7 linked regions of the Homo sapiens genome follow. The protein of the gene in region 2 purifies or fractionates together with the protein of the main gene of each other region. This does not show direct contact. Each region holds a gene or a part of one and is shown on either strand. Other genes may lie near its edges. The genes, in order: P4HA1, HRG, FBN1, FBLN5, KAT6A, IMPACT and PPP1R7.

Region 1 (4,518 bases), on a different chromosome or scaffold from region 2:
CATCTCAATGTGGCAGGAAGAGCTCATGTATGGGTTAATCCATGAGCTCTGTAAGTCCGTTGGTGCATCTTAGGTGCTTTGTTCACTTGGATATGCTCAATGACCAGAGAATCTACCCTTAAGTTCAGCATTACTCTCTGTGTTTTTAAGCACGTGCAGCAAAAATTCAGCACTCTTTTTGGGCCACCGACCTTGTGGCCCAAACAGGCTAAGTGGTGAGCATTTTAGTTAAGAAGGCCCAGTGTTGTTATGCAGGACTTTGTTAAAAAAAAAAAAAAAAAAAAAAAAAAAAAACCGAAATATTTTAACTCAAGTAGGTTTAATTCACCACAGAAGAGCTAAGAGAAAAGAGGGGGTTGGTAAAATACAGTATACTTTCTTTAAAAAGGACTTGGGAGGAAAAAAATCAACTTAGAAGATCCAGCCCCACTGCTTTGCCTGCGCACACCTGCCAACTCCACCATTGTAATGTCGGAATGGTATGCACTGTTTCTGTAAAGTGACATCTTTCAGATACTTCGTGCCTTTTTGTATATACATACCCTTGATGGCCTGAGCAGTTTCACGAGTGTTCTTAAAGTGAACACGAAGATTGGAACCTCTTGATTTGCATGATTTTGTGGGGTTCTCCGGGTCAAGTGAATAGCGAACCATTTTCAGATTACCTCAGGCCACTTAGGAAAGAGCATCATATTTCTTAATAGGAGAAAGTCTTAAGTACCACTATTGTAATAATTTTTTTCTTTTTTGAGACAGAGTCACTCTGTCACTCAAGCTAGAGTGCAGTGGTGCAATCTCAGCTCACTGCAACCTCTGCCTCCCAGGTTCAAGCGATTTTCCTGCCTCAGCCTCCCAAGTAGCTGGGACTACAGGCATGCACCACCACACCCGGCTAATTTTGGTAATTTTAGTAGGGATGGGGTTTCACCATGTTGGCCAGGCTGGTCTCGAACTCCTAGCCTCAGGTGATCCGCCTGCCTCGGCCTCCCAAAGTGCTGGGATTGAAGGCGTGAGCCACCATGCCTGGCCCATAATAACTTCATAACCACAGTAAAGTATTTTAGAGCTCTCTTTGAAGGAAGCACATCTTGATTCATGAAATATCTGAAACTTCAGAGAGCCTAAGTTTTTCTTAACCATGTGACATTAGTGTGAGTGGAAACCAAGAGTATAAACCTAAGCCCTATGTACTAAAGAAATTACATAAGTTAACCTGTTACTGCCACATCATACATTCGGATTTAAATACGAAAAACACCACACAGAAAACAAACATTTTTTTAAAAAAGATTTAAGATCATAAATAGGTCATTGTTGTCACAACACATTTCAGAATCTTAAAAAAACAAACATTTTGGCTTTCTAAGAAAAAGACTTTTAAAAAAAATCAATTCCCTCATCACTGAAAGGACTTGTACATTTTTAAACTTCCAGTCTCCTAAGGCACAGTATTTAATCAGAATGCCAATATTACCACCCTGCTGTAGCAGGAATAAGAGGCAAGGTATTAGCACTAAGAAAAACAGCAAAATTCCTGAACAAAATCATCTGTCATTTTAAAAAAGGGATAAAAAAACAGGCTAAGTGGTGAGCATTTTAGTTAAGAAGGCCCAGTGTTGTTATGCAGGACTTTCCATTAAAAAAAAAAAAAAAATCGAAATATTTTAACTCAAGTACGTTTAATTCACCACAGAGGAGCTAAAAGAAAAGAGAGGGGGTTGGTAAAATACAGTATACTTTCTTTAAAAAAGACTTGGGAGGAAAAAAATCAACTTAGAAGATCATATGAAAGGGCAATCACATGGAACCCAGTTAGTGTCCTAGTTTATTACTAGTCTTCAGATCCAGAAAACAGAGTAAGACACTAGGTAAACAGAACACCTAGGCACATCTGTAAGGCATTTGTTTCCTATCACACAGCCCATTCTAGCTTAACACCCACCAACTGAGATGTAGTGAAATACTAAAACTGGATGCTCAAATTATGTTTTTATCCAACCAAAAAGTTCTTTAAATATAAAATTCCTCACTTTAAACTCTGCCTTGTCTTCTGTGATACCAACAGAACTTTAAGGTTTTATGCAATATGATGATTTCGTGTTACTTTTAAAAGAACCCACAAAGTAAGCAATTGTCCACAGATGAAACATGGGATGAGGTTCATGACTGAATCAATCATGGAGTGTTAGTCAATTGTAAACTCCTGAAAGTTAAGACTAGGAAATGTGTATATCAGACACATAAGAGTACAACAATAGGAGAAAAAGGGAAGCCTGTTTGTCATTCCAATTCTGACAACGTACAAGGTCTTCGAAATTCTTGTCCACGTTCATGGAGCCATTTATTGGATACTGTGAGAGAAAAGTAATATATTAATTTTCCCCCTTAATCTAATCAGTATTTAATTAGTTTCTAAAAGCTAGGTCTATAACAAAGTTTCATCATGGGATAAAAGTTCAACACCAAAACCGGATAAAGGCAGATGCTACTTAAAAACTTGGCTAAATGCTGAAAACACAGATTTTATATACCTATATACATATGTGTACACACTTGTGTGCGTGTATGTACATACATGTATGTATACACATGTATATTTGCCAGTCTATGTGCATTTCTTACAGTTTCCAATGTTCAATGTGAGGCTTGAAATGAGACACAAATGGACCTAAGATACAGGTACAGGTAAGAGTAGAATATTGCTTTATGTATTGTTTTCAAAGTACAGCCTCCAAAATACAAAGACAATAATGAACACAAACTTTGCACTCTAAAGGAACAACTCTCTTATCAACCATTGCTATTGTATGCTCATCAAGTTTCCAAAATACCTTTAAAAAATGTATACCATGTAAAAATGTATCCCAAAAGCAGTTAATTTTCTATTTTTTTTTTGTCTCTGGTACCATAGAACCCAGTCAAAATATCTAAAGCAGGAACCTTAATTCTTAACTCTTTTTCCTTCTTCAACCCTTGTATCTACACTTTATTCATCAAACCCTGACAATTTTCCTTACATCTCTCTCAAATCTATTTGCTCTCCAACCCTTTCACTGATGCTTTAATCCAGGCCATTATCATCTCCCACTTAGACAACAGAAAACAGCTTTCTAAACTCTCTCTCACCAACTAGCCTCTCCTCATTCTAGTCCAGTGGTTCTTAAACACTATAATCATAAGGGGAGATTTTAAAATCCTGATCAGGCCTCACTCCTTAACCTTGTAATGTCCTGTATGTAACCACTCAACATGTGGCTAGTAACACAGATTGAAATGGATACATGGGGCTAATTAATAGATATTAAAACTAATTTTACCTGTTTCTTTTTACTTTTTAAAAATGTGGTCCTGCACTTGCATGTCCCTGACTGAGAGTGAGTGCCTCTTTAAATTTTGCACATTAGGTGCTACTCGAGCCTCACATTAGAACCTGGTATCTAACATGTTTGGAAAACTGCTGTTCTATCTTCAGGACCAAATTTAAAGAAAAAGCTTTGAAGAAGACTCCCCAAACTTAGGCAGTCACCATCTTCTGTTTACATTTTTGTATTAATATGTACTACATTATAATCCATTAGTATGTCTCAATCAGATTATTAACCCTTTGAGGGGAAGATATTGTCTTATTCAATTTTGAGTCAGTCATTGTTTCTTGGAATAAGTAAAAATAGTTAAAAATAAAATCTGTCATCAAAATTCTGATTTCAAATTTGTATTATGATTAGGCACTTGTTTGGCTGAATCCTGTACAATGTTAAAATCATATTAAGCAAACATGGGGGCTTTTGTTTTTAAGACACAGATAATAGTTCCAAAATAAGAAACAAAAATTACATTATCTTCGCAGAATATATGAAATATTTACCCCATTTGTTGCCAACTAGCACTGGACAGGCTGCATGCCGTGTACTATAATCTCCTTCTCCACTGGCAAACAGATTATACCAGAAAACAGCAGTTCCCTATGGAGAACAATTCACAATTATCCCCAAGTATACAATGCCAGGTAATTGCTTTCGGTAGTTATTACTTTTTTTTTTTTTTTGAGACAGAGTCTTGCTCTATCGCCCAGGCTGGAGTGCAATGGCACGATCTCAGCTCACTGCAACCTCCACCTCCCAGGTTGAAGTGATTCTCCTGCCTCAGCGTCTCAAATAGCTGGGATTACAGGCGTGCAACACCAGGCCTGGCTAATTTTGTATTTTTAGTAGAGACGGGCTTTCACCATGTTGGTCAGGCTGGTCTCGAACTCCTAACCTCAGATGATCCGCCCATCTTGGCCTCCCAAAGTGCTGGGATTACAGACGTGAGCCACCGTGCCCGGCCGTTTTCAGCAGTAATTTTCCCTTTGTTCCTGCGGAAGAACTCTATAGCAGTATTTTATTTTCCTCTAATATAATTCTGAAAATATGGTTATATCACTTTAAGAACCGTTTTTGATCATATGAAAAATACCATAAAAATGTTTGACAACAAAAGTATTTGCCAAAAGAAAGCTAACATATCTTACATAGCAAG
Region 2 (4,089 bases):
ATTGCAGTTGGAAGATAGACAGAATCTGAATTCTTTTAGTTTGTTTCAAATGATTGAGTCCTGATTTGAGGAGGAAAAAGAAAGAGGAGTATAGTGTGGAAAAAGTCTTCTGGCCCTAAAAATAAATAAAGTGAACTTACCTGAGACTAGCAAGAGAGTCGTTAGCTGAGGGAGAAGGTATAGGGAGAAGAGTGAGGTAAGGGGTCTCTGAGGCAGAGGAGATCTCTGCCCTGCTTTCTGGGCATGCAGCTGGGAAGACAGCAAGATCCCAGGGAGAGAGCAGCCATATGCCATACCTTGGCAGTCATGTCCATGGCTAGTGTACAGACATTCCTGCACCCCCAGTTTTCTACAGAAGTAGCAGATAAATCAGACTGAAAGAGTGATGTGAACAGGGTTGTGACTATCCCTGAGCAGGATGGCTATCACTCATGATGATGATCATTGGTCCAACAGTCACCCTGGCTGAGGGATAGTCACTATCCTGCTTCCTACCACCTGGACAGCTTGGCATGGTGTGAGATCCTAGAACTGTGGCCCAACTTTGTGTGGAAAGTAGCAGGGCAGGGAAAGGGGACTCCAAGAAGGACTGGGGTTAAATTTCCACTAAGCCAGTAGGATGGCATCCTCAAATAGAAATTAATTTGTTCTGAGCATAAAGTGACATTTCTTATGCACCTGAATTTATGGTCATGATTCATGTTAGCAAGCTTCTTTGCAATTTATAGCCAGAGGTTTGTTTGCTTCAATACTGAATTTAGAACTTATTTTTCCAAAAGAAAATTTAGATGCCTAGTAATAATCACGAGGAGAGAATTTAGGTCACTTTAATAATAATAAATAGGGGGAGGGTGGGAAGCAGGAGAGCATTCGGAAAAAGAACTAGAGCATGCTGGGCTTAATACCTAGGTGATGGGTTGATAGGTGCAGCAAAGCACCATGGCATGCTTTTACCTATATAACAAACCTGCACACCCTGCACATGTGCCCTGGAACTTAGAAAATAAAATGAAATAAATGATAACAATAGTTTCAATACCATACTTTATTAGTATGCCCAGGTATAGCCCAAGCAGTAACAGAGACTCTAGAATTAGAGTTAAGTCCAGGAAAGAAGGAGATTCTGAGTGGCATAGATTTGTCTCAAGTGATGTAGTGGTGAGTGACAGAATTAACTACTAATAGGCAGCACTGAGTTCTTTCCTCTCCTTTCCATTTGATCTCTCTTCTCAGGCCATCTCTTTTCCCATTCACATTTTGCTGCATCTTCAGTATGAAAGTAGGTTGAAAAGAACTGTAATTTTCACAATTACTGGTCATTTTATTTATGTTTCTAATTCAATGTATTATTCATTTTCCTCTTCAAAGGAATCACATTTTATTTTGGAAATGTATGTGTAAAAAACATGGAAACTTGTGGAAACCCACTCTTGAACTTCCCTGGACATGATTCAGAGACTGATTGAGGAAAGGGCTGATTGTCTGGCTTTAGAGGATGTTTGTGGTGCGGCAATGGGAAGCTGGGAAAATTGGCCTCAGGAAGTGGCAGCACCTCACCTTTTCTTAGAGGAGGGAGTCGGTACACAGATCCAATTTGTCTGCAATGGAAGGGACGGGGTCCTTTACCTGGGCCTCGCCTTCTTAAGTGCCCAGGTGGTGGGCCGTGGCCATGGCAACAGTGACCTTGGTTATGGGGTGGTGGGTCACAAGGTCCATAGTCTTGGAAATCATGGCAGTGGGGATGGTGTCCATGGGGATGGTGTCCATGGGGGTGGTGTCCATGAGGATGGTGTCCATGGGGGTGGTGTCCATGGGGATGCTGTCTATGGGTATCATGTTCATGAGGATGGTGTGCATGGGGATGGTGTCCGTGGGGATGCTGTTCATGGGAATGATGCTTATGGGGATGGAGGTCACTGGAATTATTATTATGAGAATGTCTTTGGGCCCCATTTGTGCCAAAAGTGGCATGTTGACAACTTGAGCAGGACATGGGCAATAGTGGAGGAGGGCCTTGTGGAAGTGGGGGTCCATGTGAGTGATCTCTTTCATCTGGAGGAGGTGGGGGTCCATGTTCGTGTGGCTTGTGGGGATGATGATGATCTCTAGATCCATGGGGCTTGAATGGAGGCTTGGTGGTAGAAGAACGCTCATGCCCACCCCAGTGGAAGGGATGTCCCAAATGAGGCGGTACACCATTGATGTTCTCATGTTCCTGGAAAAGGTCACAGAAAAGTGCCTATCATCATGTAACATAAAAGAAGATGTTAGATACTTGACTTGATTTACACCAATGGCTCCCAGATCATAGATTCCACAAATCAATTTAAAAAGTATTACGAAAAAAGATTCTCAAATTGTTATCTAGCCCAGTTGATATTTAAAATATTAACAATAACTATCATTTACCACCATCATTGTTTCACAAAAGAAACTATTTTTTTTTTCTGAGACTGAGTCTCGCTCTGTCACCCAGTCTGGAGTGCAGTGGTGCGATCTCTGCTCATTGCAACATCCACCTCTCAGGTTCAAGCAATTCTCCTGCCTCAGCCTCCCAAGTAGCTGGGACTACACGCCCAAGCCACCATGCCCACCTAATTTTTTTTTTTCTTTTTTTGAGACATAGTCTTACTCTGTTGCCCAGACTCCTAATTTTTGTATTTTTAGTAGAGACAGGTTTCACCATGTTGAACTCCTTGTTTCAAGTAATCCACCCATCTCAGCTTCCCAAAGTGCTGGGATTACAGGCATGAGCCACCATGCCCAGCCTGGAATGAAATTTTGATTTAAAAAAAAAAGAAAGAGCCAGAAACACAATATCAGAGTAAAGGATTGTCCTTTAGATGGATAAATGTTAGATATAAAAAACTTCATTATCCTTATTTTTTTTTCATTTTTACTACACAGAGTGGTGAAACAATATTATGACCTGGCACCCATCTGTAGACCAACACTGGAAAACTAGTGCCTTATAACTGATATTCTTAACTGAGGCTTGATGGTATCAACATCCCTTACTCCTAAAGGCTGAACACTTGACCTCTTCTCTCTCTTCCTTGTTCAGAGTTTAATTTTTTAAAAAATAGCTACAGAGGCCGGGCACGGTGGCTCATGTCTGTAATCCCAGAACTTTGGGAGGCTGAGGCAGGTGGATCACCTAAGGTCAGGAGTTTGAGACCAACCTGACCAACATGGAGAAACCCCTTCTCTACTAAAAATGCAAAATTAGCCAGGTATGGTGGCGCATGCCTGTAATCCTAGCTACTCAGGAGGCTGAGGCAGGAGAATCGCTTGAACCCAGGAGGCAGAGGTTGTGGTGAGCCGAGATGGCACCATTGTATTCCAGCCTGGGCAATAAGAGCAAAACTCCTTCTCAAAAAAAAAAAAAAAAAAAAAGACAGAGCCATGTTCATGGTGACAATCCTGCCCTTTGTTCCTTTTTCTTTTTTTTAACTTGGGATTGGATGTTTGGATTATTTTAAGTTTTGTTTCTGATATGAAAAATTTCGTGAAGCAAATCTTTGTACTCATGTAAAAAATAGACCAAAGATTTCTGAGACAGATGCAAAATATGGTTTTGCATCTTATTTTATATACATTTACATAATAAATTTGAGGCTGATATATTCCTCTTAGATTCTATGCCCAATAATATAAGCTTAGGAATGACTAAGTCTCAGCACTAGAGTCCCGACTACAAAGAGCATTTTCAAATTCCTTCAAGTTTGGTTGAATTGGACATGATTTTAATTTTCTGCCAATTGTTACCCCTCTTCAATTCTTGGAAAAGTTTTCATACTTTTTGTGTAATCTGGCAATTGCACTCCTTTCCCCAGTTGTGGGATACTCTCTGTATCTTTTTTCTTGCATGTCTGTCTGTCTCTCTCTTTCTCTCTCTCCCTGTCTCCCTCTCTCTGTCTCTGTCTCTGTCTCTCTCTCTCTCTCTCTCTCTCACACACACACACACACACACACACCCACTCATAGAGCTTTAGGAAGCAACAACACTATTTGTGTACGTATGTCACTTAATCTGGCACTGCCATGACAAAGTCTGCTTAGACAACCCACCTGAGGGTCGAAGACTTC
Region 3 (4,644 bases), on a different chromosome or scaffold from region 2:
AAGTCTCACATGGTTTCCACCCAAAACCATAAATCAGCCCAAAGTTTTCTGAAACATGGCCCAGGACAACTCAGAACTTCAACTCAGGTTATTGAAAAAGATTGGAACCTCAGCCAATCAAACTGAATTTCAAGTTTATAAGTGAATCTGTGGCCAAGAGAATTTCATCCACGTGCCTATTATCATAACTGAGATGTGTTCTCCTAGCACCCAATACTTCTCCTGCATTGCAAATGGCACATCATGCATGGTGCAATTAATTGTTCATCTGTCTCCTGGCCACAGTGTAATCATTTTGAAGTCAAAGATTGTGTCTGTCCCATTCACTATTAGAGTCTCATCTCTAGCATATAGTAGGTATGTCATTAACATTTGTTGAAGGAATCAGTGACTCAGTTGCCCTAGAATGCTTTTTCCCCTTTATTTGACGTATGCCTGGAAATGTTAAAAATGTGCCATGCTCATAAACACAGAGGGAGGTGTGTTAGCCCATTTTTGTGATACTGTAATAGAATACCTGAAACTGGGTGATTTATAATGAATAGAAATTATTAGTTCACAGTTCTGGAGGGTGGGAAATCCAATATCAAGAAGCCAGGATTTTGCATGGTCCTTCTTCCTACGTTATCCCATTGAAGAAAGCACGAGGGTGAAAGAGAGCAAGAGGGGGCTGAACTTGATCTTTTATAACAGCACCGATCCCACCATGAGGGTAGAGCCCTCATAGGATGATTACCTCTTTTAAAGGCCCTGCCTCTTAAATAGTGTTACAATGGCAGTTAAATTTCAACACGAGTATTGGAGGGGACAGACATCCAAACCATATCAGAAGGTGATATTATTTTCATTTCTTTTAGACATTGATGAATGCAGCATAATGAATGGTGGTTGTGAAACCTTCTGCACAAACTCTGAAGGCAGCTATGAATGTAGCTGTCAGCCGGGATTTGCACTAATGCCTGACCAGAGATCATGCACCGGTGAGTAGGTTCTAGCCTCATGTTGAATCTCTCAGTAGGTTCCTAAGTAAAGTAGTTTAGGGCCCAGGCTTTGGAGTCAAGCAGGCTTGAGTCCAAACCCTTGTTTGTCATATATTTTAACTGTATCCTTAATCAAGATACCTATTATTAGAATCCTCATCTATAAAATGAAGTTCAAATTGCCTGCATAAAATAGTATTTACAGAGCTTACCATAGTACCTGGCATATAATAAATGGAATATAAAATACATTTTCCTTCATTGACCAGACTTTTGAAGAGTTTGATGTTTTGGCCTAATTCAGTGCAACTCCAGGTTTATTCCTTGAACCATTGGCAACAGCATCACCTGAGAACTTGTTAAAAAAATGTAAAATCTCAGGCCCCATTCCAGATCTACCGTATCAGAAACTACTGAGGTAGATCCCAGGAATTTGTTTTCACAATCTCTCCAAATGATTTGGATGCATGCTAAAGTTTGAGAACCAGTGGTCTAATTTACACTTCCTTTTGTATCACCCTGGCTGCGAGAGCTGTGAGCCAGGTAGAGGTGAGAAACAAAGTGGGTAATAACATAGGCTTTGATTTTGGCTTGGCTTAAGAAGAGAATTTGGATTTAGGAACCAAAATTATTTTACTGACCTAGAAAAATGTCCCTTAAAAAATCTAGATATAAATTTGGCTACAAAAATTGTTGAAAATAAGGCCAGGCACGGTGGCTTACACTTGTAATCCCAGCACTGTGGGAGGCTGAGGCAGGCAGATCACCTGAGTTCAGGAGTTCAAGACCAGCCTGACCAACATGGTGAAACCCCATTTCTACTAAAAATACAAAATTAGTTGGGTGTGGTGGCACATGCCTGTAATCCCAGCTACTTGGGAGGCTGAGGCAGGAGAATCGCTTGAACCTGGGAGGCGGTGGTTGCAGTGAGCCAAGATCGCGCCATTGCACTCCAGCCTGGTGACAGAGTGAGACTCTGTCTCAAAAAAAAAAAAAAATTGTTGAAAGTAAATATTATTACTAAGAGCATCTAAGTAGGTATGGTTATTTCAAGTAATTCTTACCTTAAAATATTGCTAAAACAGTTGATAGAATTCAGGCATTTATAATTTGACAATAGGGAAAATAAGATTTATAATAATTTTTGAATGATAAATTAAATGAAAGAAAGATTTTAAATAAATAATAGACTTTTAAGCAGGTGTGGACGTTGCCCTTGAGCAGTATATTATAAATATTGAAAAATATTTTTTCCTTTTTTACCAAGGATAACCCAATGGGCTAGTTTATGCAAAGCTTCATTTGGATTTGAGAGTTAATAGTCTTATGCTAGTAGGCTAAGTTTATTTGACTGCGGTCAGTTAATGTTTTCTCACTGAACAGTGGAACCAATATCAACAACCTGTGGTTGTTGGTTTTATTCTTTGCAGACATCGATGAGTGTGAAGATAATCCCAATATCTGTGATGGTGGTCAGTGCACAAATATCCCTGGAGAGTACAGGTGCTTGTGTTATGATGGATTCATGGCATCTGAAGACATGAAGACTTGTGTAGGTAAGCAAAGAAGACAGAATTTTTCATCTTGTCTTGTTAGTCATAAGCACTGTTAAATTACATAAAGTTAGTTTGGGTCAGTGATAGAAAGATTCCATAGGAAAAGTAAGGATATTTAGAGGCACAATACTCATATTTTAACCAGCATTCCAAAGAGAGCTTTCTTGTGGCTATTAAATGGTACTCTTGTCAGATATGTTATGAGGACTGACTGGCCATTCGTCAGCTCCAGATGGACATTTCTTTTATGCCTATCCATTACTTTTGTCCACTTAACCCTCCTTCTGCTTTGACTATCATGTAGGCTTTTTAAATCCTTGACTAAAGGCAAACAAAATTTACTTCTGACAAGAATGCAGTAAACTTTAGAACTGATCTATTTGTTTTGTATAGTTTCTATTGTTATGCCTTCAAATTTGATAAACTTTTCTTCTACGATCTCTAATCTGCCTTTCCTCACATACAGTGTATTTTTCATCTCAGATGTTGTAGTTTTCACCTCTAAAAGTTCGACTTGGGTATTTTTTCATATATTCTGTGTCTCTGCATAAGTTCAATCATTCCTCTAGCTGTTTGAACACATGGAATACAGTTATAACAACTTTTAGTGTCTTTGTCTCCTAATTCTGTCATCTGCATTGGTTCTAGGTCATTTGAATAAATTGACTTTCTTCCTTATTTTAGGTCATATTTTCCTGCTTCATTGAGTGACTGGTAATTTTTGATTGGATACCAGATAGTGTAAATTGTGCCTTACTGAGTGCTAGATATTTTTGTATTCCTAGAAATATTTTTGAACTTTGTTCTGAAGTGTAAATTACTTGGAAACACATGGATCCCTTTCAAAGTCTTGCTTTTAAGCTTTTAAGCTACACTTAGTCTAGGGGTAATTTTGCTCTGTTAGTGAGGTAAGACCCTTCTGGATATTCTACCCAATTCCCTGTGAATTATGAGGCTTTCCAGTCAGGCTGGTGGGAACAGGCACAATCCCAGACCCCCTGTGAACTTTGAGGATTGTTCCCTCTCATTTTCTTGGGTAGTGCTTTCCCCAGCCTTGAGTAGTTTGTTTCCTTATATGAATGTGCTGGTCACTACTCATCTGAATACTTGCAGAAGACTCTTAGCAAATCTCTGGCATTGCTTTCTTCTGTGTAGCTCTCTCCTGTCCTTTACTCTGCCCTATGAACCCTAACTACCTCAGCCTTCCAGGATGCCCAGATTCATCTCCTCAACTCAAGGACAGTGCCTGGCTCCATCTGGTACCTCCTCCTTATGCCATGAAGTTAAAACTCTCCTATTCAGTAATCTCGGGCAATTGTAGGATTCACCTAGTTTTTCTTTCTCTCAGGGATCACTGTCTTTTGTTGCCTAATGTCCAATGTCTAGAAAACCACTTTTTAAGGTATCTATTGTCTATTTTTTTTGGTTGTTTCATCTGAGAATATAATTTTAATTCCTGTTATTCTATCTTGGCCAGAAGCAAGAGTCTGGTATTGATTATATTTACATTTTTATCACATTTATCTTCTGAAAGCCTTTACTGAAAATGTTTGAAGTCCTAGAATTAAAATGAATGTCATAAAAAATGAATAATTTTTAATTTGGAAAAGAAGTGAAGTCTTAAACTACTTACACTAAGACAACCAGTTCATCTATCCTTTCTTTCAAAATATGAAAACTAAATTGTTATCATCATGCAGACTGAATTAAACTTTTCATCCTGCAATAGAGTATGCTGTTCTAAAAAGTTTTCTAGACTGTCACATAAACGAGCTCTAAACTCAGCATGGAGCCCATCTGTTTATTTGATTAACTGGCCTGCTGCTTATGGGCCAGATGAAAGCCAGTCTGAATAATGAGCTTGCAATGTAAAGAATGAAGAGCAAATGTAAATTGGCCTCTAAAATTTAACATTGTTTTTCTGAGGGAAAGCATTTTACCTTTTCTAATGTATTTGTCATAGTTATTATGTCTCGAGGGGAAAGTACTCAATGATATCAAATAGCTACATATATTAATAGTATATATGTTTTACAGATGTCAATGAGTGTGACCTGAATCCAAATATCTGCCTAAGTGGGACCTGTGAAAACACGAAAGGCTCATTT
Region 4 (3,500 bases), on a different chromosome or scaffold from region 2:
TCTACCTGATTTTGATGTCTGTACATAAATAAAAGCTACACAGAGATGTGGTCAGTTTTCTAAGAAAAGTTGAATTGAGTAAATTTCTCCATTTCAACCTCAGCAAGATGACGACATAAAGATGCTTCCAGAAAGAGATAGATCTCAACAATTCCAGAGGGTTGTAGCTTTTACATACAACTTGAGCTACAAATGTATGTACTTAAAAAAAAAATGTGTTGGGTGGACTCTTCAGGAAGACCCCAGGGCCTGACATTTTCTAGGAGCTCCCATCCCTGGCCTTTTCTACAGCTTCGGAGGTTGGGCTTCGCTGAGCTGTTGGTTGATTTGCAGAGATGATGTATATGGCCTGCACTCCCGGGAGAGGGTTCAGGGGTCCCAGGGAGTTGGGGCAAAGGAAGTGGAACAGACGAGCCAGGAAGCTGTGCCGGGAAGCTGGGAGGCCAGGAGATCCAGGTTCCAGCCCTGGTTGTCAAGGACTGGCATAGGTTCAAGACTGCTGGACCAGGGCATGGCTTCAAATTCTCACTCTAGCCCCTACTCTCTGCGTAACTTTTCTATGCCTCAGTTTCCCCATCTGTAAAATGGGGGGGTATGTACGTAGTTCAAAATGGTGGTAAGGACGATGTATGTTAATCTATATAACGTGCCTAAAGTGCAGTAAACACGACCCTGAACCTCTGCCCTTGGGGCCTACCTGTCTTCATGTGTACACCATGAGGCTGCCTTAGAAAACCGCAAGGTCTAAAATTCTTTGTTACTCCTCCCAAAATCCTTCCCATTGCCAGTGGCCTGAATATGCTTCAAAATTCTTAATATGAAGAGAGAAAATGCTCCCCTACCTGCCTGCAGCCCTCAGCCTGCTCAGAGATAGGGCTTCTCTCACTTCTTTCCTGAGCCAGAGACACAGAGAGGCCACTCGGAGTTTTCAGGAGGGATCTGCCCACATTTCAGGGCTGACACACAGGGGTCCATCTCTCCTGTTGCTTAAAATAAAGTCCAGGATGCTGCAAGCTTCTTCCAGAACCCCTAAGGCCCTGAGCCTGGCCTCACCCACCCCCTTCTTACTCCTCTGAGGGGTTTCAGCCCAGGGATGGGCCCTCCTAGGTTTGGAGCTGAATTATGCAACACTACATGCTGGGATGTTTGGGTAACACCCACTTCCTCTCCCACCTCCTCCAGGAGGGGTGTGTCTGTGGCAACACATGCAGACCCGTGGGGGTCCTCAGGTGCCATTGCCCAGAAACACTACAGCATATTTTACTTTTCAACACTGAAGGTAGGTTGAGGCCTGCTGTGAGGGGCACAAATGAGGCCATGTGATCTGATTAAAAATGGATGCTGGGCTTAATACCTAGTGATGAATTGATAGGTGCAGCAAACCACCATGGCCCACATTTACCTATGTAACAAACCTGCACATCCTGCACATGTACCCTAGAACTTATAATAAAATAGAAAAGAGTCTTGGACTGGGAGTCAGGAAACTGAGTACCAGCCCCAGCCTTGTCACTTACAAGTCATGTCACCTGGGCCAAGTCTCACTTTCTCTGAGCTTCCACTGTTAACCTCTGAGAATGAAGAGCTCAGATGAGGTCAACTGTAAAGCCACTCCCACCCCCACAAACCTAGGGTTCCGTAGCGCAAGGCTGGACTCCCTCACCCCGGATTTTAATACGCTTGTAGATATTTTTTAAAAATAAAAATCTTACCTGTGCATTCCCAGGGCTTGGAAGACAGAGAGCCAGAATGGTAACAGTGAGTATCCTGTGGAGGTGAAAAGTCAAATATAAATGCCCAAGACAGATTCAGGTCTAGGGGAGTGTGGGTCGCATGCGGCCCGTGACGTGTAACGGTGATATCACCTTGGGCTTGTATGGGGTGGGGTGTGCTCCAGGGAGGTCATGGTGGTTCCAGACACCGCGACCACCCAAGCAGAACCACACCTCTTCTACTTGCCTCCTGCATTGGGATCATGTGTTAGATCACACTTTTTAATAAAGGGTTTGGCTGCTTCAAAAAAAAAAGCTAAGGTCAGGTGCGGTGGCTTACGCTTGTAATCCCAGCACTTTGAGAGGCTGAGGCAAGAGGATTGCTTGAACCCAGGAGTTTGAGACAAGCCTGGGCAACATGGTGAAACCCCATTTCTACAAAATTAAAAAAAAAATTAACTGGGCATGATAGCACGCGCCTAAAGTCCCAGCTACTCAGGAGGCTGAGGTGGGATCACCTGAGCCCAGGGGGTTTGAGGCTGCAGTGAGCTGAGATCATACCACTGCACTCCAGCCTGGGTGACAGAGCGAGACCTTGTCCTCCCCCCACCCCCCAAAAAAGCTAAAACCTCCCACTATGGTATTAACCAGTTCCTTGGTCTTTATTCTTTATGCGAGATGTGCTTGACTTTTGAACATCTTTATGCTGACATGATTACAGAGTGAATAAGCCATCATCATGCCCTCAAACAGTGAAAGGAAAAGAAAGTGAGAATGTGAGGCACTTTGAGTGGCACCAAAGAAAGGTGTCACAGGAAGTCACTGAACCAGAGCATTGAGTCCACATGTGTGAAAATCCCCCATCAGTGGATGGGTTGGGGTGGCCCTGTCCCCTGAAGAGTGTGGCCTGCGGGAACTGCTGCCAGCAGGTCCTGATGGAGGAAAGGACTCGGGGAACCTGCACAGCCCAGGGAAAATGAAACCCGCGGGAAAACAGGAGGAGGAGTCACGCACCCTGGGCTCAGTTCTGCCATGCACAAGACAGTGATGCTCTGGGAGTCTGCAACTCTGCCCTTCGCCACGCACAGGCTTTAATCCAGTAAGATTGTGGCCAGCAAGATTGCTTTAAAAATACAAAAGCAGCCGGGTGTGGTGGCTCATGCCTGTAATCCCAGCACTTTGGGAGGCCGAGGCAGGAAGGTCACCTGAGGTCAGGAGTTCGAGACCAGCCTGGCCAACATGGTGAAACCTTGTCTCTCTACTAAAAATACAAAAATTTGCCAGGCATGGTGGTACACGCTCTGAGACAAAGCGAGACTCTGTCTCAAAAAATAAAAACAAAATAAAAATACAAAATCTCTACTACTTCACACTCATGAGGCTATTAAAAAATGGAAAAGAGCAAGCGTTAGGGAGGATGTGGAGAAAGTGAAACTCCTGTGCACTGTTGGTGTAAATATGGTGCAGTCTCTATGGAAAACAGTATGATGACTCCCAAAACACTAAACATAGAATTTCCATGTGATCCAGCCATTCTACTTCTAGGTATATACCCTCAAAAAATTAAAAGCAAGGACTTGAAACAGGTATTTGTAAACCTGTGTTCATAGCAGCATTATTCACAATAGCCTAAAGGTGGACGCAGTCCTTCGATGGATACATGGATAAACAAAATGCAGTCTGTACACACAAGGGAATAGTATTCAGTCTTAAAAAGGAAGGAAATTCTGACACATGCTACAATATGAATGAACCCTGACTGTATTATGTTAAGTGAAAAAAGCCACT
Region 5 (4,868 bases), on a different chromosome or scaffold from region 2:
GAATAGCCATCACCCACTCTGGTTAGTGGTAGCTTAAAGGTCATTCTTAGAACATGTCATCGTGTTTCCTCATTGTATCCTAATTACTCATCTTTTTTTTTTCTTTTCTTTTTTTTTCTTTTTTATCCCAATGGTTTACATACATGATTGTTTTGGAATATTAATAGATAAGTTTGGAAATTCTTAAGGGTGCCTAGTAAACACTTGCTGTTTGATTGCTTTATGATGAGGATGCTTATTTTCATTCGAAATAGGTCTTGGTAGAAAACTGACCTTATTTTCATTGCTTTTCAGGCATAAGATGCACATTTTTCTGCTCTGGAGCCGGGAATGAAATATTCTTGAGTTCTTACAACTTTATGACGAGACCCATGTGTGGTGCTATTGAGAAATTCATTGGGAAGTTGGAAGACATTTCAATCAACAGGTTGTTTTGGTTTCTATAGTACAATTGGGGTGGCATTCTGTTTTGTGAAAGGAGGAAGGACTTAGGCCAGAAAACTCATATGCTATGGTTAACTGGTTCCCAGCCTCCGAGAATCTTGTTTTCCATGGTGTAAAACTTACTCAGCATCAGGATAAGGGATAACGACTCTATGGATATACAGAATCCTTCACCATGGTAAAACTCGCAAACCCGCTTTATACTGAGTGGATTTTGGAGGCCATCAAAAAAGTGAAAAAGCAGAAACAGCGTCCTTCAGAAGAAAGGATATGCAATGCTGTGTCTTCATCCCATGGCTTGGATCGTAAAACTGTTTTAGAACAATTGGAGTTGAGTGTTAAAGATGGAACAATTTTAAAAGTCTCAAATAAAGGACTCAATTCCTATAAAGATCCTGATAATCCTGGGCGAATAGCACTTCCTAAGCCTCGGAACCATGGAAAATTGGATAATAAACAAAATGTGGATTGGAATAAACTGATAAAGCGGGCAGTTGAGGGCTTGGCAGAGTCTGGTGGCTCAACTTTGAAAAGCATTGAACGTTTTTTGAAAGGTCAGAAGGATGTGTCTGCATTATTCGGAGGCAGTGCTGCCTCTGGCTTTCACCAGCAGTTACGATTGGCTATCAAACGTGCCATTGGCCACGGCAGACTCCTTAAAGATGGACCTCTTTATCGGCTCAACACTAAAGCAACCAACGTGGATGGGAAAGAGAGTTGTGAGTCTCTTTCCTGTTTACCTCCAGTGTCCCTTCTTCCACATGAAAAGGATAAGGTAAGAATGGCATATGCTTCGGGGTTTATAGAGCTGATGATATAGGATGCTACAAATTCACATTTCTGGGAAGTTATATTCAAGTTTTTTGTTTGGGGACTTCTGTGGAGTGATCACCTCTGGTTTTTTATTGGTGAGTTGTAGCTATGAGAGCTTCATAGATTTGTTCTGGTACTTTGAAATATTTGAAGCCTAAGATTAAAAATGTAGAATGTTAATCTGACTAAAAGAACTTATTTACATTACAATGAAAAAGTGACATATGAGTTTAAAACTTTTTTTTAAATTTTTTTTTATTATTTTGCTTGAGGAGTACTCCAGCGTGAGACTTTAAAACTTTAACTAAAGGTTCTTAGAACACCTTACTACTGGAAGTTGATGAGCAGCCAAATCATGGAGACTTGAATTTGAAACAAGCAGATGACTCTGAGAACATTTTTCTGTTTTCCATTTTGTTGCAGATTACTCGTTAGACAGAAATGAGACAGATTCTCATGACCCATAGGCGCAACTAAGCAAACTTAGCAATTCTTGTTTCTGCTGTTTGTATTATAGCTTTCTGTCATGTATTATGGCTTTGCATATGATGAAGTCCTAAATGCTATTTATGACAGCTGTAGTTGCATGGGACAGGAATACAGTATCCTAAACTAGAAAAGTTCTGGAGGGTCTGGAACAGTAGTTCATGCCTGTAATCCCAGCGCTTTGGGAGGCTGGGACAGGAGGATGTCTTGAGCCTAGGAGTTTGAGCCCAGCCTGAGCAATATAGCGAGACCCCACGTCCACCAAAAATAGAAAAATTAGCCAGGTATGGGCGCGCCTGTAGTCCTAGCTACTTGGGAGGCTGTGTCGGGGAGGATTGCTTGAGTACAGGTGTCTGAGGCTCCAGTGAGCTATGCTGTCACCACTGCACTCCAGCCTGGACAACTGAGACCCTGTTCTAAAAACAAAAAGAAAGGTAAAGTTCTGGAGAGTTGGGAGTTTTGATGCCCAGATGTGTACTTTACTCTGTTGTGTTTTAGGATGTTATTGTATATAGTTGAAATTATGACTTCTTAAACAGTAAATTTTGGTGCTTAAATAGATATTTGGAGATTAGGAGAATTTTGTTAGTACCTGTTTTTTACATTGACCTAGTATCTTAGCTGTAAATTTACTTAAGGTGCTCTGAATTATAGTTCCTTGGAGAGCAGTGATGCTTTAAGTTGCTGCACACCTTGGTAGACATAAGTAAAATGATCTTCATTTTGCTTAAGATGATGGAGGATACTCCTAGGGTGGAAAGATGGTAAAGTTAACATTGAATGTATTTTGAAAATTGGAGATTTGATCTCAATTTGTTGTATTATTAGCAGCCCACTGAATACCTGTAGATTTTTCTTTAACAATTGAAAATTAACGGTATTTTTCTTTGATGAAATTTTTAGAGATCTATTTCAGGGTTCAATTTTCCCTGTGAACATTGAAATAAAACATAATCTTACTGTTATTACCCTTGAAATGATTCTCATACAGTCATGAATTGATAGAGAATCTCATTCATAAAATGGCTCTATGTAATTTGAGCATTTATTAAAAGTATATATTAAAAATTCAGGGTAGACAAGTAATTAAAATGCTTTATTCTATATTTAAGTGCTGTAAGAACTCTTACCTGTAGAAACTTTATCACATGTGGCTGAATTTAAATACAGTTATCGGATTTCTACAATTATTAAATGATCTAACAGGTTAACTGCCTGGAAACAGGAAATAATTTATAGTTAGATCAGTTCAGTGCCATACCTGTGAATTGGATGTTATAAGTTCCTGTTAGGCCACCTGTTTGCTTTTATTTATTTATTTTTGAGACAGAATCTCGTTCTGTCACCCAGGCTGGAGTGCAGTGGTGCAGTCTCACTGCAACCTCCGCCTCCCAGGTTCAAGCGATTCTCTTGCCTCAGCCTCCCAAGTAGCTGGGATTACAGACATGCACCACCACGCCCGGCTAATTTTTGTATTTTTAGTAGAGACGGGGTTTCACCTTGTTGGCCAGGCTGGTCTCGAACTCCTGACCTCGAGTGATCCACCCGCCTCTGCCTCCCAAAGTGTTGGGATTACAGGCTTGAGCCACCGTGCCTGGCCTGTTGTTTGCTTTTATTGTAATTACACTTGCTTGAATTATCAATAGATAATTTTAAAAAATATTAGCTATATAAAAATGTCATTTGAGCATATTTTTAAAAGGTAGTAAATATAGTACAGTGCAAGACAAATCCAAGTCCTAGAACCCTGAGATTTTACTTTTGGAAGGGACCCTGAGAACCGTCTAATCCAAGTCCTTATTTTGCAGCTGAGCTAAGGACCTTTGTTGAGACCATTTCATAGCACCTTTGCATTAAGAAAAGTTTAATTCAGTAGAGATGTGCTGTTTTGCTTTGACTGGAGTGCAGTGGTGTGATCTCAGCTCACTGCAACCTTCGCCTCCCGGGTTCAAGCGATTCTTCTGCCTCAACCTCCTGAGTAGCTGGGATTATAGGTTTGCGCCACCACGTGTGGCTACTTTTTTTTTTTTTTTTTTGTATTTTTAGTAGAGACAGGGTTTCACCATGTTGGCTAGGCTGGTCTCAACTCCTGACCTCAAGCGACCTGCCCACCTCGGTCTCTCAAAGTGCCAAGATTATAGGAATGATCCACCGCACCTGGCCACATTTGATTTTGGAGAAATAAAGCAAGAAAAACAAAAGTGATTTAATAATTGAAAAAATGAAAAAGAAATGCCCATTTGCTTACATAGCTTTCATATATAGTGTTTTTTTGTTTTTTTTTTTTTTTTGAGATGGAATTTCGCTCTTGTTGCCCAGGCTGGAGTGCAGTGGCACGATCTTGGCTTACTGCAGCCTCCGCTGCCCAGGTTCAAGCAATTCTTCCTTCTCAGCCTCCCATGTAGCTGGGATTACAGGCATGCTGACCACCATGCCTGGCTAATTTTGTATTTTTAGTAGAGACGGGGTTTCTCCCTGTTGGTCAGGCTCATCTCGAACTCCCAACCTCAGGTGATCCGCCCACCTTGGCCTCCCAAAGTGCTGGCATTACAGGCATGAGCCACCCTGCCTATAGTGTTAACTGAAGTAACTAAATTTAGACATGTTGGAAAATAGAGTTTGTTTCTTCAGGTAGACTTGTATATGTACTAATCTCATTGGAAAACTAATTTCATGATAGTATCTATTCAATTAGAGTTGGTGAGCTCTGTTCTATATTTTTAAATGGAGTCTTATTTTCAGTAGTGAATTTCCTGTGTGACTTCCCCCAAAGATATGAAAAGTTTACATTAAAAATCGTAATACAGTGAACTCTAGGATGAGAGATTATTCCTTTGAACAGATTATGTCTGCTCCTTTTATTGTATTTTAACTATTTTCTTTCCTCTCCTTCGAACTACGCAGTCAGTTGCTATGCAGAATTGATAGTTTGCTGTTACGAACCTAGATGTTCTCAAAAAAAGAAAAGAATTATCCAGAGTTTATTTGACAGTGATGGAGAAAGGAAGGTGTATAGGTCAGGAGTAGTTTCACTTTTAGGAATTAATTGGTTCAGCATATAGTCATTGAGCACCTACTGTGGGCCAGGCACTCTGCTTGGAACAGAAACAGTTCTGTCTTCTCTG
Region 6 (4,868 bases), on a different chromosome or scaffold from region 2:
CTAGAAGTAGAAGTAGAAGAATTACCTCCGATTGATCATGGCATTCCTATTACAGACCGAAGAAGTACTTTTCAGGCACACTTGGCTCCAGTGGTTTGTCCCAAACAGGTAAAGTTCCTTTGTCTAGCTCACTTTGATGATTACTAAAATAATTCAGGTAAATGATTTTGCAATAATCCCCTTGTTTTTACTTTTATGTTTTATTTTCATATAAGATAAAAATTATTTGTTCATTTTTCTACTCCCAAATTACTGTGAATCACGGAAGATTTGTTTTGTTTCTGTTTGTCTCTGCTTTCTTTCTTTTTTTTTGTGATGGTGTCTCACCATGTTGCCCAGGCTGGTCTCAATCTGGACTCAATCAGCCCTCCTGCCTCCAGCCCTCCCAATCCAAGGTATTGGGATTACAGGCATAAGCCACCTAGCCAGGCCTGTCACTGCTTTCAAAATTGTATCTAAACTCTGATTAGGGGTTAACCCTCTAATGAATCTTTAAATAAGAAATACCCATTGTGTTATTAGAGAAAATTATGATGCTTAATACCTTGTCAAAAAGAATTATTTGTCCTGTCGAATGGGAGTTCTGTGAAACTAAGTCCATTCCTCTGTTATTATTCAACAAAGGGGACAGTGGACAGACTGGCTAAACCAAGTCCTCCCTACCTGACTTACTTTCCTTTGTGCTTCTTGATCTTAGGTGACCATATTTCCACCCAGGGATATAAATGGGAGAGGTTTCAGCCATAAACTATTCCTAGGTCTTTGCCTTTCTCATTCTCCTTTCAGCAGAATCCTTTTCTTCTTCCTTGCTTCTATAATGTAGCTCAGCTTACATTATTGATGTACGAGGCAATTTCAATACTACCTGTAAAGTTACATTTTTAAAAATGTCTCATTTACTGCAGGTTTTAGGCATGAGTCTCTTCCTTTGGTCTTTGCAGCTACCCTACTCTTGAAGCTCTTTAAAGCCCTGGGCTTCAGGGATACAGCTCTTTGTACCAGGCTGTTTCACTCTCTGAAAGAGGAAGTTCTTTTCTGCGTTGACTTGTGGTCAAGATCATAACTTTTGGTGCAGACTTCTGGTCTTTTCTCTCAGGAATCCTATTTTGTCCCTGGCCCTTAGTCACATCTTCTTCCCAGGGTCCTCCTGAGACATTCTAATTCTGAATCTGTTTATTCTGGATCCTCTTTCTGTTTCTGATCACAGTCACTTAGATTTATAGCATTATAATTTGTGAGAGCTGAAACAAGTTTTAGAGGTCATTGTCTATTTTATTGATCAGAATTTGAGAACCTGAAAGATTATAAAATGATAAACAGAAGATTGCACAATTTGTGATCCAAATTGGTGTCCCCAACTCTAGCTCAGTCTTCCCTGCCACCAATATTTCTTCCATACTTCTTGCCATTACAACATCCCTGAAAAATCTGACCATGTGTCATTCTGTTCTCTCTCTTATCCACCTTCACACATGTAATCTTTGCTGATTTCCAATGTCTACAAGGGAAGATCTAAACTTATTACACAGATCCTTTGTAATATGGCCCTAGCTTATCATTCATGACACATCTTCTGTCATCTCATTCATACTCTAAGTTAAGCTGTGTAAAGCTTCCTGAACTTTTCTCTTTTTTGTTCCCACTAAGGTTGCCAGATAAAATACAGAATACCTAGTTAAATTTGAATTTCAGGTAAACATTATTGCATGGGATGTACTTATAGTAGAAAAATTACTTGTCGTTTATCTGAAATTCAAATTTAACTGGATGTCCTGTACTTTTATTTGCTAAATTTGGTCACCCAGTCCCTGTATTTTGCATATAGCCCTATTCTCTGTGTGGAATGTCTTCTTCCTGCCCCATCTTTCCTTTTGATGCAGGAGAACTGCCACTTATAAGACCTGGCTCATGTGACCTCCTCTATGAACCTTACTTGACTCCCAGAGAAAGATGTGGTTTTATAACATTTGGAACATACCACTATTGTACACCTGCTACATTGGATGTATACATTTGGTAAATTTCAGAGCTAGTTTTTAGAAGTTTTATATGATACATTTAAAATTCCCTACATGGGGAACAAACTTTCCCTTTGACATAGTAGTACCGAAATATTTGTTGATAATTAGTGCTCAAAAATACCAGGTCTGTCATTTTTATACCAATTATGAGTACCAGTCTCTGCCCCTAAAATGAGAAGGAAACTTTGGAAATGACTTTTTCAGAGTATAGTAGACTCTTTAAGTGACTATTTATTTTAATACAGCATGCTTCAAGGTATTTTTCTAGCATTTATTTACAGAGCAAATATAAAAAGCATACTTATTTATATTATTGCTGTTTTTAAGGTGAAAATGGTTCTTTCCAAATTGTATGAGAATAAGAAAATAGCTAGTGCCACCCACAACATCTATGCCTACAGGTGAGTAATCATCACAAGCTTTAGTATACTCAGTTTGTTAAAAATAGAGGGAAATGATGCATGATTTTAGAAAATAATAACTATTGTGTATTTTTTCCATTGTAATAGTAATAGACATGGAATATTTGGAAACTGCAGAAAAGATAAAAAAGAATTGAAGGGAAAAATCTGGCATTTTCTGCCATCAAATGTAACTGACAATATTTTGTTTTTTGTTTCATTTTTTTCTCTGCAAAGTTTAATTTTTCCCAATGCTTTATTTACCCTTGTATCCTGTTTTTTTCTTAATTAAACAAAAGCACTTTTTCATATTGTTATAACTGCTTGATAAATACTGTTTAATGGCTGTAAAATATTTGAGATGCCATACTACAATTAACCATTTCCTTTTAGTTTTTCATGTTTTTCACCATTATAAAGAGTGGTCCAGGGAACATCTTTGTATACTTTTTAGGTTATTTCCTCAGGATAGGTTCTGGTTGCTTGAGATTCTTTTTTGAAATGAAATGGGAATATAATAAAAGGAAGAAAGAATTCTTAGAAGTAGAATTATCAAAAAGTGTGAACAATTTTGAAACTCTTGATATATAGCCAAATTTCTTGCAAAGGTTTTGTTTTATTTTGGTTTGGTTTTTGAGACAGGGTCTCAAAAACCCTGTTGCCCAGGCTGGAGTACAGGGGCGTGATCTTGGCCCAAGCAATCCTCCCACCTCAGCCTCCCACGTTAACTGGGACTGTAGGTGCGAGCCACCATGCCCGGCATAATTTTTGTATTTTTTTGTAGTGACAGGGTTCTGCCATGTTGCCCAGGCTGGCCTCAAACTCCTGAGTTCAAGTGATCTGCCAACCTTGGCCTCCCAAAGTGTTAGGATTTACAGGTGTGAGCCCAAATGTTTTTAAAACCAATTTATGCTCCTGTAAGCAGTGAATTAAGAGTATTTCTTTTACTACATGAGTTTCAGTTTTGAGAATTCAGGTTTTTATATGCATCTTTGCTGATTTGTAAGTGAAGAGATGAAGGGCATTTGAAAAAATACGCAAATTTGTAAGACTTTAAAAGTACATAGTTTAGGCCTAAAATAAATCAGAACACAGGGACTTGGTGTAAATTTAAAATGTGATTGAGACTATTTGTAGAATCTAGGCTATCTGAAACTGAAACTCAAAAATTCATCATTTTGAGTAGGTGAGTTCTTAATATTACTAATTTCACATCTCTTTAAGTGCCAAAACTTACAAACAATTATTTGTTATGTAATTCCCCTCTTAATAGAGTATCACTGGATAGAATTTTAATGTTTTCTTAAGCAGTTATGGCCTTCAATAGGAAAATGAGGAATTAGACTACTCTCAGTCATTAAAATGGGCTGTAAAAATTGTAATGTTCATTTATTCTACATGTTTTTTGAGTGCCTACTCTGTGCCAAAACTTTATGTAAATTAACTCTTATTAGTTAGCAATTCTAGCACTGTAAAAAGGTTAGCTTTTTCAAGATCCCATAGTTAAGTGATGGAGCTGAATTTGATAATCCAATTTCATTTGTTTTCTTTATTTCACTCCTCTATGGCTGTGGCTACAGCTTCAACAATCTTGTATCTAAGCTATGTAAAAAAAGAAAAAAGTACTCATAGTATTTTAACTTTAATGTTCATAGTAGATGGTCAGTAAATATTTATTGAGTGGATGGATGGATGAAGGGAAGGAAGGATGAGTGAATGAATGAATGTGACTGCTGTAAGGTAACATAACTGACTTAGGTGTGTAGATGAGCTTTTATAGCTTTTAGTATTTACATTAAAAGTTTACAGCTTTTTATGGCCAGAGCTGGGAGGATGTCTTTACTACATTTACCCAGTTCCACATGATACCATTGGTAGGGCCCTAAGAAATCCACCAGATGGCATACTGTAACTGACACTATTTTTTTTTTCTCTCTCTAGCACTTATTTGCCAAGCTTATTTTACTGTATTGTAGGCCTACATTATTATTTCAGATATAGCTTTCTAGTTTAAATGGATAAAAATACCACGATTTGTCTCTAATATTAGTAACCATCCAGAGGAAAATTTAAATCTTTACATTCTTAGAAGAAAATAGAGAAATGCTTGATGGCTGGAATAAGATGAGAGGAAAGTATAAAATATTACCTTATGTTGGTTTTGTTGCCTTCATCTTTTTTTTATATGCTTTTTGTTTCACTACATCTTAAGGCTCTTTGAAGACAGATGCATGCCACTTACTTCCTTTATAATATGTCTTAGTACCTGTTGCTTTTATACAGTATATTCTCAATAAATGTTTTTCAATGATTGCTCTTGTTACTTCAAGGTTAAATGAAGTAAGGGGAATGTCACATGGATAAATTCACCTTCCCATAATAGCAACATTTCTGATATAAAGGAGATGCCTTTGATTCCTAGCTTTCCCAAGTATATAAAAAGGCA
Region 7 (4,868 bases), on a different chromosome or scaffold from region 2:
AGGTTGGAGAAGCCCTGATCTAGGTATGGGTAGAACCTACAATTGTCATTTGACCAAATGGTTTGCAAACCTCAGCAGAGAGGCAGACGCATTCCCTACAGATATATTCCAGCACAACAGAAGGAAATGTTGGATGGGTTTCTGCAGTTAGTCATCTTGGAATTTGCCTTGTATTTGTCTTGTCACAGGTATGGTTTCAGGAGTAGTGTTGTGGAGTCAGCAGGAAGAGAAACAGAATATAAGAAGTTTTTGCAGTTCCTCTAAAGGGGTTGGGAAATGATCCCCGAGTGGAAGTCTTCAGTGCTAGGATTCCCTTAGAGAAATCTCCTAAGGTTTATTGCCTTTCCGCTAGCACGTGGCCCTGCAGAGACTGCGGCACAGGTGTCACCCTGTGATGCTGGGAATGTAGTAGTGTCCTCAGATACATTCAGTCTAATCCAGGATTCATGCTGAGTGTAAGGCATCATTCTTCCTTGTCTCTCCTCTAGCCGTGCTGCTGACCCTGCTTATGTCCTGTGCTTTCTCCTTTCCCCACTTTAAAAGGTCATCCAAGTTTCCCTAGAACACAGGTGGCCTGCTGCAAATGTTCCTTGCCCCTTATTAGTGGCACTGGGTCTTGAGTAGTGTCATGATGGGATACCAGAGCATGTCTGGGAAGATCAGAGCCAGAATTTGGCAGGTGATAAAGATGTACCAGGCCAGGGGGAGCCTCAATGAGTCCAGGTGGGTCTATGTGCAGCCCACCCTTGAAGGAAGGTGTGGCTGGTGGTAGGCTGGTTGAATTAGTGCATAGGGAGTTGGCAAAGAAGCCAGGGAACAACACAAAGAAACCAAACAACAGGAATAAGGAGTCCAGAGACAGAGGACCAGGTGATAGGGAAAGGGCACCTGGCAAAAAATTAGGGAGCAGGTTTGGGAAACGAGCTGATACTGAAGCAATGTTCCTGAAGCGTAACGATTCCTTCTGCATGCCCTGCCTAGGAACAGAGCATGGGGCACAGAGTGCTGAGACCACAGGCAGGGGCCAACCTGGGTACCACAGCTAGCAGGGAGGCAGGCAGGCTGGTGATCAATCACTAGGGGCCAGGTAGTGCCTGACCCTGTAACACAGAAGAATCCTGTTCCTTAGGCCACCAAAGATAGTAAAAAATAGCCAGAATTTGCACAGCGCTTTATGGTGTCCATACCTCTCTCCATTCTGATCCAATTATCACAGCAACCATGTGGATAAGGTCATATTACCCCATTTTACAGGTAAAGAATTGCATTCCAGGAAGGAAAGCTGCAAACCAGGAATTCTCAAACTCAGTTCCATGCTCATATCACATTTGAGAGGCACATCATTCATCTCTAAGGCAGAAATAGAAAACCAGTCTTAACAAGTTTCTGATAACCCACATACTATGTTTGTTGATTTTTCTGCCTATTTGTTCCAATTACTGAGAGGAGAATGTTGAAACCTTCCAACTATAATTGTCAATGGATCCATTTCTCCTTTCAGTTCCATCAGTTTTTGTTTCTTGTATTTTGAAAGTCTGTTATCAGGTGCATACATATTTAGAATTGAGGAATTCTTGATGAATTGATCCATTTATCATATGAAATGTTCTTCTTTCTTGCTTATCCTCTTTATCCTTGTCCTGGAAGGGTATCTTGTCTGTTATTAACACAGCCCCTTCATCTGTCTTATGATTAGCGCTCTCATGGAATCTTTCTCCATCCATTTCCTCTTAACCCATGCCTTTATAATTAAAATGTGTTTTTCATAAAAAGTATGTAACTAGATCTTGCTTTCTTCTCCAGTCTGAGAATCTCTGCCTTTTAAGTGGTGTCTTTAGACTGCTTACATTTAATATAATTACATTTAATTACATTTTGTGTAATGGTTGAGTTTAAGTCTATCATCTTAGTATTTGTTTTTTATTTGTCTCATCTATTCTTTGTTTACTCTTTCCTACCTACTTTTTGGAGTGACTTTTTTTTTTTTGCAGTCTATTTTAACTCTATTATTGGCTTATTTGCTATACCTCTGTATTAGTGTTTTCTTGTTGATTGTTTGGAGGGAGGGTTGTTTTAGCGATTAGAATTTAAAAATACATTTTTAATTTTCACCATCTATATATTTTACATTTAAATATCTTACGATCCCCATGATACCTTATCTTTTAAAGAAATTTAAAAATGGCCAGGCGCAGTGGCTCATGCCTGTAATCCTAGCACTTTGGGAGGCCAAGGCAGGTGGATCACCTGAGATCAGGAGTTTGAGACCAGCCTGGCCAACGTGGTGAAACCCTGTCTCTACTAAAAATGCAAAACTTAGCTGGGCATGGTGGCACATGCTGTAGTCCAAGCTACTCAGGAGGCTAAGGCACGACAATCACTTGAACCTGGCAAGTGGAGATTGCAGTGGGCCAAGATCGTGCCACTGCACTCCAGCCTGGGCAAAAAAGTGAAACTCCGTCTCAAAAAAAAAAAAAAAGAAATTTAAAAACAAGAAAACTCACTTATTTTACCTTTTCTGGCATTGTTTATTCTTTCGTGTGGATCTGAGTTTCCACTTGGTATTTCCCTTCCACCTGAAGAATTCTATTGTTTTGTCGTGCATTCTGCAGTAAACCAATCCTTCACTTTGATTTGTTTGAAAAATCTATTTAATTTGCCTGCATTTTTGGAATTTAATATTATGGATACACAATTCTAGCTTGAGAGATTTTTTTTTCCTTTTTAAGTACATTAAATACTTTGTTCTTTCATCCTCTGGTTTGCATTATTTCTCCTTTATAAAATTTTTATTATTTTAAAAATATTTTTTAAAAATAAATAGAGATGGGGCCAGACACGGTGGCTCACACCTGTAATCCCAAGGTGGATCACTTCAGGTCAGGAGTTTGAGACCAACCTGACCAACATGGCGAAACCCCGTCTCAACTAAAAATTCAAAAATTAGCTGGGCGTGGTGGCACGTGCCTGTAGTCCCAGCTACTGGGGAGGCTGAGACAGGAGAATCGCTTGAATCCAGGAGGCAGAGGTTGCAGTGAGCCAAGATCATGCCACTGTAGTCCAACTTGGGCAACAGAGCAAGACTTTCTCAAAAAAAAAAAAAAAAAAAAAAAAGGACGGGATCTTGCCATGTTGCCCAGACTGGTCTCGAACTCCTGAGCTCAGACAGTCCTCCTGCCTCAGCCTCCCAAAGGGCTGGGAGTACAGGTGTGAGCCACCACACACGGCCCTGGTTTGCATTATTTCTAATAAGAAGCCAGCAGTCATTTTTATCTTTTTTCCTCTGGCTGCTTTTTAATGTTCTTTTTAATCATTGTTTCTTATTTTGTTTTGTTTTTTGCAACTTGAATATAGCGTGCCATGGTGTAGTTTATTTTCTGTGATGTGTCAGGGTTAACTGGGTCTGTGAATCTATGGTCTTCATCAAATGTGGAAAGCTTCTGGAGACTATTTTCTCTAAAACTGCTTCTGCCCTTGCTCCTCACCCCGGTTTCTCTCTGAAAACCCAGTTATGCATGTTCCCCTGGCACTAGCGAGGCCCCTGAGGCCATTGCCTCCACCCTGCTCCACCCCTTGGGCTTTCATCTTGCTGTGCTTGTTTGTATAATTTCTGTTGTTAAATCTTCAAGATCATGATCTTATCATCTGTAGTAGCCTATCTGCTGTTAAGCCCATGTCATGAATTTTTTATTTCAGATACTGTATTTTTCTCAACTCTAAAAGAACATTTGGCTTTATTTTTTTTTTTTTGGTAGATTATTTTTCTCTCTTCATTAGATTCATGTTTTCCTTTAAGTCCTTCCTTCTTCACGTCTTGTAATTTTTTATTAGATCCTGGGCTTTATGGTGTTCAATTGTTGAATGTCTGGAATTTATGTTGTTTTCCTTCAAAACATACTGAACTTTATCTGACAGGCAATTAAGTTACAGCTTGATCCTTTTGAGGCTTGTTTTTAAGCTTTATTAGAGTACATCTAAATAGTCTACTCCGTAAGATTAATCTAGCACTGTTTTGAAGCTGTGGCCCTCCTAGGATCTCTGGTGAATATCCTGTGTATTTAAGTTCTCTCCACTGTGGTTGACGGGAACACAAACATGGACCTGCTATGGGTGAGCTCTGGGCATTCTGCATCTTGGGGCTGCTTAGTAGTTCTTCGACCAGCCTTTAGCTTTTCACTCTGCCTAGCACAGCTTCATCTTCAGTCCAGGATTCCACAGGATACCATGTGGATTTCTGGAGGCTTTTTCCCTACATAGCTCACTCCTATCTATACATTCCAGCTCCCTTTGCCTCCCCAAACTACAATCACCATCTCAACTCTGTGTGGCCACCAGGCTCTGCTTGGGTTCCGCCTCCTTGTGGTCCTGAAAGTTCCTCCAGGCAGAAGGCCGGGATGATCACACCACCCACCTCATTTGTTTCCTGTCTCTCAAGAATCACTATCTGTGTTGCCTGTTGTCTGATGTATAAAAACAATTATTTCATATATTTTATCCTCTTTTTTTTTTTTTTGAGATAGAGTCTTGCTCTGTCGCCCAGGCTGGAGTGCAGTGGCGCGATCTCAGCTCACTGCAAGCTCCGCCTCCTGGGTTCACACCATTCTCCTGCCTCAGTCTCCTGAGTAGCTGGGACTACCGGTGCCCGCCACCACGCCTGGCTAATTTTTTTTGTATTTTAGTAGAGACAGGGTTTCACTGTGTTAGCCAGGACAGTCTCCATCTCCTGACCTCATGATCCGCCCGCCTTGGCCTCCCCAGGTGCTGGGATTACAGGTGTGAGCCACCGCGCCCGGCCTATTCTATCCTATTTTCTAGTAGCTTGTGACAAAGGCAGGAGCTCAGCACCAGCTATTCTGTCATGGCTTGAA

The links.
Region 1: the proteins of HRG (region 2) and P4HA1 purify together in Homo sapiens (affinity purification with mass spectrometry; one large-scale study listed by BioGRID and IntAct). This does not show direct contact.
Region 3: the proteins of HRG (region 2) and FBN1 purify together in Homo sapiens (affinity purification with mass spectrometry; one large-scale study listed by BioGRID and IntAct). This does not show direct contact.
Region 4: the proteins of HRG (region 2) and FBLN5 purify together in Homo sapiens (affinity purification with mass spectrometry; one large-scale study listed by BioGRID and IntAct). This does not show direct contact.
Region 5: the proteins of HRG (region 2) and KAT6A purify together in Homo sapiens (affinity purification with mass spectrometry, with the first as the bait; one large-scale study listed by BioGRID). This does not show direct contact.
Region 6: the proteins of HRG (region 2) and IMPACT purify together in Homo sapiens (affinity purification with mass spectrometry; one large-scale study listed by BioGRID and IntAct). This does not show direct contact.
Region 7: the proteins of HRG (region 2) and PPP1R7 purify together in Homo sapiens (affinity purification with mass spectrometry; one large-scale study listed by BioGRID and IntAct). This does not show direct contact.

Annotation. Positions count from the first base shown.
Region 1 is NC_000010.11:73,005,942-73,010,459, forward strand, and holds the end of P4HA1 (prolyl 4-hydroxylase subunit alpha-1 isoform 2 precursor), read right to left. Parts: intron 3,963-4,518; coding exon 3,866-3,962; intron 2,352-3,865; coding exon 2,281-2,351; 3' UTR 1,276-2,280; downstream 1-1,275. UniProt on the Homo sapiens protein: Catalyzes the post-translational formation of 4-hydroxyproline in -Xaa-Pro-Gly- sequences in collagens and other proteins.
Region 2 is NC_000003.12:186,675,173-186,679,261, reverse strand, and holds the end of HRG (histidine-rich glycoprotein precursor), read right to left. Parts: coding exon 4,072-4,089; intron 2,240-4,071; coding exon of another isoform or gene 2,216-2,239; coding exon 1,379-2,215; 3' UTR 1,028-1,378; downstream 1-1,027. UniProt on the Homo sapiens protein: Plasma glycoprotein that binds a number of ligands such as heme, heparin, heparan sulfate, thrombospondin, plasminogen, and divalent metal ions. Binds heparin and heparin/glycosaminoglycans in a zinc-dependent manner.
Region 3 is NC_000015.10:48,481,710-48,486,353, reverse strand, and holds part of FBN1 (fibrillin-1 isoform a preproprotein), read left to right. Parts: intron 1-857; coding exon 858-980; intron 981-2,410; coding exon 2,411-2,536; intron 2,537-4,573; coding exon 4,574-4,644.
Region 4 is NC_000014.9:91,941,195-91,944,694, forward strand, and holds part of FBLN5 (fibulin-5 isoform 1 precursor), read right to left. Parts: intron 1,768-3,500; coding exon 1,713-1,767; intron 1-1,712. UniProt on the Homo sapiens protein: Essential for elastic fiber formation, is involved in the assembly of continuous elastin (ELN) polymer and promotes the interaction of microfibrils and ELN. Stabilizes and organizes elastic fibers in the skin, lung and vasculature.
Region 5 is NC_000008.11:42,044,729-42,049,596, reverse strand, and holds part of KAT6A (histone acetyltransferase KAT6A), read left to right. Parts: intron 1-294; 5' UTR 295-619; coding exon 620-1,219; intron 1,220-4,868. UniProt on the Homo sapiens protein: Histone acetyltransferase that acetylates lysine residues in histone H3 and histone H4 (in vitro). Component of the MOZ/MORF complex which has a histone H3 acetyltransferase activity. May act as a transcriptional coactivator for RUNX1 and RUNX2.
Region 6 is NC_000018.10:24,443,045-24,447,912, forward strand, and holds part of IMPACT (protein IMPACT), read left to right. Parts: intron 1-4; coding exon 5-108; intron 109-2,348; coding exon 2,349-2,422; intron 2,423-4,868. UniProt on the Homo sapiens protein: Translational regulator that ensures constant high levels of translation upon a variety of stress conditions, such as amino acid starvation, UV-C irradiation, proteasome inhibitor treatment and glucose deprivation.
Region 7 is NC_000002.12:241,170,180-241,175,047, forward strand, and holds part of PPP1R7 (protein phosphatase 1 regulatory subunit 7), read left to right. Parts: intron 1-4,868. UniProt on the Homo sapiens protein: Regulatory subunit of protein phosphatase 1.